Linked DNA regions of Homo sapiens: regions 1 and 3 are each reported to be linked to region 2. Evidence: microRNA targets listed by miRTarBase, many of them from high-throughput screens and not tested one by one. Region 2 holds a microRNA gene; each other region holds the end of a gene's coding sequence.

The links. The annotated mature microRNA hsa-miR-125a-3p reads ACAGGUGAGGUUCUUGGGAGCC and lies in region 2 at 1,112-1,133, shown strand. An mRNA with a match to its seed (bases 2 to 7 or 8) in the 3' UTR can be bound and repressed. Matches are read on the target gene's strand: a 7mer-m8 pairs with bases 2 to 8, a 7mer-A1 pairs with bases 2 to 7 and ends in A, and an 8mer does both.
Region 1: the mRNA of HPCAL1 is a reported target of hsa-miR-125a-3p. Seed matches in the 3' UTR shown: 7mer-A1 at 674-680.
Region 3: the mRNA of RANGAP1 is a reported target of hsa-miR-125a-3p. Seed matches in the 3' UTR shown: 7mer-A1 at 806-812.

What each region holds. Positions count from the first base shown.
Region 1 is chr2:10,426,309-10,429,308 of GRCh38, forward strand. It overlaps HPCAL1 (hippocalcin like 1), which reads left to right. Exons shown (of 5, transcript NM_002149.4): 5 at 416-1,296. The coding sequence ends at 513. Among named protein-coding and RNA genes, the nearest start is that of SNORA80B, 19 kb to the right of the region's middle.
Region 2 is chr19:51,692,195-51,695,597 of GRCh38, forward strand. MIR125A (microRNA 125a) reads left to right here and starts at 1,060; the gene lies at 1,060-1,145. It overlaps SPACA6 (sperm acrosome associated 6), which reads left to right and starts at 1,136. Exons shown (of 9, transcript NM_001316972.2): 1 at 1,136-1,546; 2 at 2,284-2,361. The coding sequence starts at 1,333. SPACA6-AS1 (SPACA6 antisense RNA 1) reads right to left here and starts at 1,262. Exons shown (of 2, transcript NR_108100.1): 1 at 440-1,262. MIR99B (microRNA 99b) reads left to right here and starts at 418; the gene lies at 418-487. It also overlaps MIRLET7E.
Region 3 is chr22:41,244,109-41,247,108 of GRCh38, reverse strand. RANGAP1 (Ran GTPase activating protein 1) reads left to right here. Exons shown (of 16, transcript NM_002883.4): 16 at 437-2,330. The coding sequence ends at 506. Among named protein-coding and RNA genes, the nearest start is that of CHADL, 4.7 kb to the right of the region's middle.

The DNA.
Region 1 (3,000 bases), not on the chromosome of region 2:
AGGATCCGGACCGTGCTTCCGGGGGCCCCCAACCAGCATGGCCTTCTCAGCCTGGATTCTGTATGGGTTAGAGGCAAATGCTTCATTTTTCTGCACAGTGTACACGTTCCTTAATAAGCGAAGTGTGGGGTGATTTCTAAAAGGATTTAAATGGCCCTCATCAGCCACGTCCTGCTGAGCTTGCTGGGTAAGCCCTTTGAGGTACCTGATGTATTGCAGGGAGCAGGGAAAGGAAAAAGGATTTTTTTTCAGAAATGCCTGTAAAGTGAATGGAGACTAGACACCGTCCAGCTTCAAGAAGGCTCAGGACTTTCAACAAAGGGAGCATACCTGACCTGAGAGCTGTCCCCATCCTCTCTGGAAGCATAAAGAACAGTGAGCACTGGCTAATCCCATTGTCTCTGGTCCCCTGCAGGCAAACTGTCCTTGGAAGAATTCATCAGAGGTGCCAAGAGCGACCCCTCCATCGTCCGCCTGCTGCAGTGCGACCCCAGCAGTGCCAGTCAGTTCTGAGCGAGCGGCCCCTGGACAGTTGCAGAGAAACACAGGCTTGTCGTGCCGTTTAAGCTTTGCTTGCAAGAGTGGATGCCCCGCAATCGTTCCTGCTCTCCCGGGCCCCGGGCCTGGGGCATGCGTTGCACCTGCCCAGCCCGGTGGCTGCGCCTCCCTCCTCCACCTGACCAACGCGACATTCCTCCCCTCACGCCTGGCCCGGTCCCTTCCAGGGCAACTCCCAGGGATGTGGTGACATGCAGGGTTCAAGTGTTCTTGGTTCCAGGCACCTCCCGGCTCACGGGGAGCTCAGAGGTCCATGCCGAGGAGACCAGGCAGGACCTCCCGAGGCTGCGCCCCGGCCGGCCCATGCGTTTTGTGATCCCAAGTGACTCTGTGGGAAGGGTGGGGACGAGGCGTCGGGAGGGTATACAGGGAGCCCCTCCCGTGCATGGCTGCCCCCCCGTTCATTTTCTCCACCACAGCCGCTTGCACGTATAGATACTGTGGTCCCCTTTCTTTTAATATATAAATTATGTATGGTGAAGTGGAGTGTATTGTGTAGGTCCCGTATTTAATGCCTCTGACTGCCTTTGAAGCGCAGCCCTCTGTGGCCCGCAGCCCCCTGAGCCTGGCTGTTGTGTGGTATTTATGCTCTCTTTGTCTGCCTGTTTCTAAGGAAATGCATGTGTGCCCTGAGCCGTGATGATCCTCCCATCCGTGTTGTGAGCACAGGCATTTGTGTCTGGTCTGTCCTCCCTGTTGATTGGTCTGGCATTTCCGGTATTAAAATGATAAAATAAATGGCATTTTCTGAGTTTTGCGTCTGCCCGCGGGAGCCCCCATTCCTCAGGCCGTGGCCCCTGCACTCTCCAGGCAAGGCGGGTGTGCTGCGTGCCACCGCTGTTGGTAAATCCGGCCCCTCTTACGTCCCTCCAGCTGTCCCCGCGTTTATAAATCTTGCACAGCCTGTTCTTCAATATCTGCCTAATGCCAAGAAATACTCGTGGAAATAAACGATGACTGTTCTTGGCAGATCTGACGGTCAGGCTTCTGCCTCCCCCCAGCCCTTCCCTCTCCTTCTCCTTCCACGGTTTCAGGTCGTAGGAAAGCCACATTCCAAGAGAGGACGGGCATAGCCAAGGGTGCAGTCAGGCTGGACCCAGAGGTGGCAGGCCTGGTTCTCCATCCAGCCTTCGCCGCTGCCGTCAGTGCTTCTGGTCCCAGCAGCAGAAGGCCCAGCTGAAGAAGTGGGGGTTGGTTGGTCTCGCCTGCCAAGGGATCCAAAGGCAGCATCGCTGGGGATCCCCAGGCATCAGCTTGTCTTTTTTTTTTTCTTTTTTTAAGAGAGAGTGTCTCTCTATGTTGCCCAGGCTGGCCTCAACCTCCTGGGCTCCAGCAATCCTTTCGCATCAGCCTCCTGAGTAGCTGGGACCTCGGGTGAACAGCACTGCGCCTCCTAATCACAGTCAGCTTTTCACCTCAGGCTTGTCTTCCTGGGGTGCCTACAACTGCTGTTGTGGTTCTGGGCAGTACAGCTGACATGGGAGCATCAAGAGGCAGGGAGAGAAGCCTCTGTCCTCCCACTGAGGGACAGGAAAACCCTCCAGAATCTGCCCACCACCCCGTCCCCACCAGCCCCACATCTCATGGCTGAAACCATGGCCTGTGTTCACAAGATGACCATGTCATGGCCACGGCTGGCTTACGCTGGTCAAGATGGCCCTTGGCCAAGGTGGCATCTGCCTCCCCCAGAGGGCATAGGGTTGGGAAGGGGTGAGTGGAATGGAGGTTCTATTACCAGGACGGGCACTACGGCGTCTGCCCACCTGCCTGCTGCTGTCGGCTCCTCTGTGCCTCAGTGTCTTCACTGTAGGGGATGGGGGGAGCTGGGTGGCTCAAGGTCACATATGCAAAGCGCATGGCTTGGAACCTGCCTCCCAGCAGGCCTTCAGCAACAGCAGCTAATTTGTTGATTTTAGTCATTTTAATATTTTTTAAGACTCCATGTCTCTTTTAATAGAAATGGTGAGTCTGTTTGCCAAGTGCCTTCTGAGTCAATGGCACTGCTAGAGCTATTTCATAGTAAAACTCTCCATGCACCCAGAGCCACCAAGCCTTGATGGGGGAACCAGGTGGGGTGCGAGATGGAGGCCAGGTGCCCTGGGCAGATCTAGCTTGCTACAAAGAGGCAAGACGGTGCCTTTGGCAACACTGCCTCACCTGGAAGAACAGCCAGTGAACGGCTTGAATTTTATAAACATTTAACTGGGACTGGCAAAGGTTAAATCAAGAGTGCTTGTTGTGGGGAGGGCTCACTTATGATGGGGACAGAGTCCAACAGAAACAGATGGGAGTGACCACTACATTAGTCAGGGTTCTCCAGGAACAGAACTGATAGGAGACATGCATGGATGGGAGGGGTGGGTGGATGGATGGGTGGGTGGGTGGGTGGATGGATGGATGGATGGATGTATGGATGAGTGGGTGAGGGGATGGGTGGGTGAA
Region 2 (3,403 bases):
CAGGTGTGCCCAAAGGGCCAAATTACGAGACAAATGAGGTTCCCTCCCAGCCGGCACCCAGGAAGCCAGGTTTTCTATCAGGCCATGCCTTCCCCAGGAGGCCTGCCTGGCCGGAGGGAGGAGGGGCTGGGGGCAGGGACTCCTGGGTCTCTGGGGAGAAGGAGGCTTTGGATCTGGACTCATGAGTCTGAGGGAGGAAGGGGCTGAGTCCTTGGATTCCAGGAACATTTGGGGAGAAAAGGGCCAGAGGCCTGGATTCCTGGGTCTGTGGTGAGGAAGGGCCTAGACTTCTGGGTTCTTTAGGGAGGAGGGGGATGAGAGCCTTGACTCCAGGGTCCCTGATGAGGAAGGGGCTGAGGGCCTGGACTCCTGGGTTCCTTGGGGAGGAGGGGCCGGGGGCCCGGACTCCTGGGTCCTGGCACCCACCCGTAGAACCGACCTTGCGGGGCCTTCGCCGCACACAAGCTCGTGTCTGTGGGTCCGTGTCGGGGGCTCACCATCGCGGCTGGGGCCTCCCCGGCCCTCCCCCTCATCCCTGGTCCTCCTGGTCCCTGTCTGTCTGTCTGTCGGGTCTGTCCACCTGCCGCGCCCCCCGGGCTGAGGTAGGAGGTTGTATAGTTGAGGAGGACACCCAAGGAGATCACTATACGGCCTCCTAGCTTTCCCCAGGCTGCGCCCTGCACGGGACGGGGCCCGGCGGGGACCCCCAGCCCCACTCAGGGACCCTTAGCCCCACTGGGCTGCCCCAGGGACCCTGGGAGGAAGAGCCGGGCTCTTTTCTGTCCTTGTCCCTGCATCCCCTCCTTCCCCTGAAATCTGTTTTCCTTCCCTGTCTGTCTCCATCTCTGCTGTGTCTCTGTGGCTTCTGTGTCTCTTTCACAGTGGATCCTCTGACTCCCTCTTATTCTGGCTTTCTAGGTCTCTGCCCCTCCCGATATCTCTCTGTGTCTCTATTTCTGTCGTTTTTGGTCTTTCTGTCTCTGGCTCTCAGAATGTCTCTGTGCCTATCTCCATCTCTGACCCCCACCCCAGGGTCTACCGGGCCACCGCACACCATGTTGCCAGTCTCTAGGTCCCTGAGACCCTTTAACCTGTGAGGACATCCAGGGTCACAGGTGAGGTTCTTGGGAGCCTGGCGTCTGGCCCAACCACACACCTGGGGAATTGCTGGCCTGACTTCTGACCCCTGACTCCTCATACCCTTCCTCCAGAGCATGACATTTGACCACCAACTGAAACCTGACCTCTGACCCCAGACCACTGGCCCTTCCCCCGCCCTGTGGTGACTTCATAAAGGTTACTAGCTTCTCCCCTGGCCTTGAGACCCACACGATGGCCCTGCTGGCTCTGGCCAGTGCCGTCCCGTCTGCCCTGCTGGCCCTGGCTGTCTTCAGGGTGCCCGCCTGGGCCTGTCTCCTCTGCTTCACAACCTACTCTGAGCGCCTCCGCATCTGCCAGATGTTTGTTGGGATGCGGAGCCCCAAGCTTGAAGAGTGTGAGGAGGCCTTCACGGCCGCCTTCCAGGGCCTCTCTGACACCGAAATCAGTGAGGAGACCATCCACACTTCATCAGTGTCCTGGGGAAGGTGCAGAGGGAGGGCAGGAGAGGCCCAGAGGGTCAGGCTGAGGGACAGACAGAGAGAAACAGTCAGAGGAGAAAGGCTCAAAGACCATGAGAACAACAGAGACTTAGGGACAGAGAGACACAGACAGGGGAAGACAGCAGGGCAAAGACTCAGAGAGGGGAGGATGGAGAGTCAGAGAGGGGAAGATGGAGACTCAGAGAGGGGGAGGATGGAGACTCAGAGAGAGAGGAAGATGGAGACTCGGAAAGATGGAGACTCAGGAGTATGGAGAGTCAGAGAGGGGAGGATGGACACTCGGGAGGATGGAGAGTCAGGAGGATGGAGACTCATAGAAAGGGGAGGATGGAGAGTCAGGAGAGGTTGGAGACTGGAGAGGGAATAGAGACCCAGAGAGGGGAGGATGGAGACTCAGAGGGTGGAAGATGGAGACTCAAAGAGGATGGAAACCCAGAGAGAGGAGGACAGAGATGAGGCAGAGACTAGGGGAAGCAGGATAGCGACTGGTCGGGGGCAGAGACTCAGGGAGGATAGAGACTTGGGAGGGACTCAGGAAGCATAGCGACTGTGGGGCAAAGAGTCAGAGAGGGGAGGATACAGACTTGGGAGGGCAGAGACTCAGAAACAGAATGTTCGCATTAGGGACATGGTGTTGCGGGGAGCTGCCTCCCCCAGCCCCTGCTCCCTCCCTCACCGCCAGACTATGATGAGAGAAGCCACCTGCATGACACCTTCACCCAGATGACCCATGCCCTGCAGGAGCTGGCTGCTGCCCAGGGTGAGTGTGTGGGGATGGGGAGATGGGAGATGTGGACTTGGAGCCCCTAAGAAATGGGTATGTGGGAGGGCCCAGGGCAGAGGAAGGAGGCCCCCAGAGTTGGGCAGTGATCCGGGAGGGGAAAGCTGGGAAGACATTGAGCTCAGCTACTTGTCCAAACGAAGGCTGAAGGCAGCTCTAAGAGCCAGGGGCTGAAGGTGGTGAGGGGGAAGGGACGCTGCAGAAATTGCCTAGAGCTGGAAGTCCAGATGGGGTCGGGTAGGCATAGGTTCTGCCATGGCTGCATGGCTCACACTCTTACTGGCTATGAAGTTCTGGGTGTGTCACTGCCCCTCTCCTGGCCTCAACTTACCCATCTGTAAAGTGGGACAATCTTCTTGCCTCCTAGGATGGCCATGGAGCTCAGTGCAGGGGTTGGGGCTGCCTGATGAGCCTGATCTTAGGGAAGGCATCTTCCTCTAGGATAGAACACACACACACTCGCACACAGACACGCTCAGAGACATACACTCACACTCACACACACACACAGATTTCTTATAAAGTGATTCCACATTTTTGAGGTGTGAGGCAATTAGAGGGCGGGAAAACAGGAACAGCAGAGTGGATCACTCAGGTGACAGCAGTGAAAAGAGACAAGGTGTGACTGTCCTGGTGAGACAGGCACATGTGACAGCCTTGAGGTGTGTGGCTGTGCGAAGAGACCTCAGGGCTGGGGGCCACGCAATGCCGATGGGCAGCATGGGCGGTAATCATGCCTGATCACCATGGCCATGATCCCCACGAGGTGCCAGACCCTGGAACTGTGGAGGCTCGGAGTTGCAGGAGTTACAGAGCCCTGCGCTATAGAATAAACTGGCTTCCTCTTAGGTCCAGGAGCTCAGGGCTTATTCCCACACCCACAGTCGCTCCTTTTGCTTCCTGCTTTGCCCTCCAAGCGTCCTGTCAACAATCCCGGAAGAGGGAAGGTTCCCATCCACCCAGGGGGCATCCAGGGCCAGCCTGGAGAAGGCCTCAGCTGTGGCTCTCCCCATCTCCACCC
Region 3 (3,000 bases), not on the chromosome of region 2:
ACTCCAGCCTGGGTGACAGAGCGAGACTCCGTCTCAAAAAAAAAAGAAAAAGAAAAAGAAAAAAAGCAACCAAAAAAACAATGGCTAGCCATTTACTTATGATCCAGATTGGACTCTAGTGGGCCAGTCCTATGTGGCCACTGGCAGCCAGTAAGGATTCCCTGGCCTATGTCTGCTGGAAGGGCCCTTGGAGAGCCTGGCTGAGGGGGCCTTCATTCTGGCCAGCTCTGGGCTGTGTGGCGTTGGGTGCCTGGCTCTCTGAGCCTCTCGCACCTCCCATCCCCACCCACGGTGTGCAGAAGGCAGAGGGCTAATGTCTCTCTTGCTGAGTCGTTGTGCAAATTAACAAAAATGAGTCTGGCACCAAAATGGCCCCCACACTTGGAAAACAGGCCAAGAGGCATCCACCGACCTGCTGACCCCTCTTTCCCCGCAGGCCCAACAGCGCCCTGGAATCCTGCTCCTTCGCCCGCCACAGTCTGCTGCAGACGCTGTACAAGGTCTAGACTCAAAGCCTCTCCCATCCCTTGGCCTGGACCAGTGAGCTGGGGAGGGACTCGGATGAACTGAGGCGCAGCCTACGCCATTGCCTTGGACAGGACTCTGGCCACAGGCAGGGCGGGTCTGTGTCCCATGTGTCCTGTCAGTCCCCTGAGTATGTGTGTGGGTGTGGCGCATGTGCAGGTCTGTGCCTCCTGTCGGGATTTGGGTTTTAACGTCTTCTGCTGGCCCAGCCCTGCTCTGTTGTGGGGAGTTGGCCCCCAGGGGAAAGGGCTGTGAGCTGCTCCGCCATTAAACTCACCTCCACCTGAGGGCGCTCTGCTGATCTCCGCCTGGGCCCTGATGGCCGTCCCCACCCACCTGCCTTCCGGCCCGGCTCCCTGGCGGAGCCAGAACCCAGGGAGTTGCCCGCGTGCTGTCCTTCCCCTCTGTGTTGTGATTGGGTTGTTTCCTGCCCTGCCTGGGGCTGCTTCTCGTCACCAAGCCCTGGTCCTGCGGCAGCTGTCACCCCTACCATCCATACCACTGTGCTGACCGCTCAGCCTGAAGAGCAGAGAATGCCATGGGTGGGACTGTGGGGGTCGGATCGTGGGGTTGTTGGCAGAGGGCAACCCTGGGCCCCACACCGTGTGGACAGGCAGACACCAGATTGTCCAGGAGCAGGAGCTGCTGGGACTGCGCTGGCCCCGGACCTAGTGGGCCTTCTCCTGGCTGCTGAGATGTCGTCTGTGACTGGCCTGGCTGGAGGGGGAGTGTTGACAACCCAAAGCTGTTCTCCAGTCTGGGGAGGGAGAGGCAGGGTCCCCAATGTCCGAGCTGCATCTGGACGCTGCTCTTAAAGGACCTCCTGGGGCAGGGGAGCGGTAGGGTCTGGACTGGGCAGATGCTGTATGACCTCCCTGAGCACCCGTGACTGCCCCATGCTTTCCCCTTTGTGCTCTGTGTGTGTCTGGGCTGTGCCCGGGGGCTTCACAAATAAAGTCGTGTGGCAGCTTCAGAGACTCAGAAACTCTCACTGAAAGCGGGATAGTCTCGGGGGCCGTTGTACGTGGAGTCCCACCTCGGCAGAGCATGCGGCCCCGCAGCAGTCTGTGGGGCAGTCAGCCCTGCAGAAGGGCCCGGCCTCGGCCTCAGGCCACTACCTGGGAAGTGGCAGTCCTGAGTGGGGGCCCATTTTCCTGCCTGGCCACACCTCACCCAGCACCCTGCCTTTGGGCTGCAGCTCGCTTGGCTTCTGCGTTGCTCCTTCACTATGGAAGCCACCTCCCTTGGGATCCTTTGCTCCACTGCCACATATGTGAGGACAGCCCAGCCAACCTTCCTTACCTCCTACCCTACACCATGTATGTGCTTTGGGAGCCCATGTCCCCCACAAACGGCCTCCAAGAAGTCCCTCCAAGGTTTCTTAGAGGGCAATATTTTCTCATTGGCAGTCGGCCACGTAGGTGACCAGGTGGCAGAGGATACTGCTGGCCCTGTCCCCTGTCTTCTGTGTGAGTTGATACGGTAGGGGGTGGGTGTGGGGCTGGCATTAAGTTCTGATGCCAGCTACAACGTGGATGAACTTTGAAAACATGTTAAATGAAATAAGCCAGACACAAAAGGACAAATATGATTCCATTTAGATGAGGCATCTAGAATAAGCAAATTCAGAGACAAGAAGGTAGAGGTTGCCAGGGCTAGGGGAAGGGTGGAATAGGGAGTGAGGCTGCAAACAGATTCTCTGGGATGATGAAGATGTTCTGGAAATGGAGAGTGGTGATGGTTGCATAACATTGTGAATGTACTTAATGCACTGAATTGTACACATAAAAATGGTTAAAATGATAGATTTCATGTATTAATATATTTTACCTCAGTTAATGTTTTAAAAATTAAGCAAAACTATAGAGCTTCACCCGGGTGTGGTGGCTCACGCCTGTAGTAATCCTAGCACTTTGGGAGGACGAGGCGGGCAGATCACTTGAGCCCAGGAATTCAAGACTGGCCTGGCCAACATGGCAAAACCCTGTCTCTACTAAAAATACAAAAATGAGCTGGGTGTGGTGATGCATGCCTGTAGTCTCAGCTACTTGGGAACCTGAGGTGGGAGGATCACCTGAGCCCAAGAAGTGGATGCTGCAGCAAGCCGTGATCGTGCCACTGCACTCCAGCATGACTGACAGCGAGACCCTGTCTCAAAAAAGAGAGAGAGAGCTTGTAGGAGATAGTGTAAGTGAGTATCTTCAAGGCCTTAGGAGTGAGGAAAAGATGAATAAATTAAGCTGTATTTAACCTCCTTTGCCATTATCGTGGGATGTTCACACAATGGAAATGATGTAGCAGTGAGAACAGGTTTCTGTTTATCAAAATACTCATTAAGGAGTACAAAGGCAACTTACAGACAGGGAGAAAATAATTGCCTAAACTCTCTCTGTATATATATATGGGTGGGGGGGATAACTTTAATTTTTTTCAAACAGGGTCTCATGTTGCCCAGCTTCTATCTCGGCTCACTGC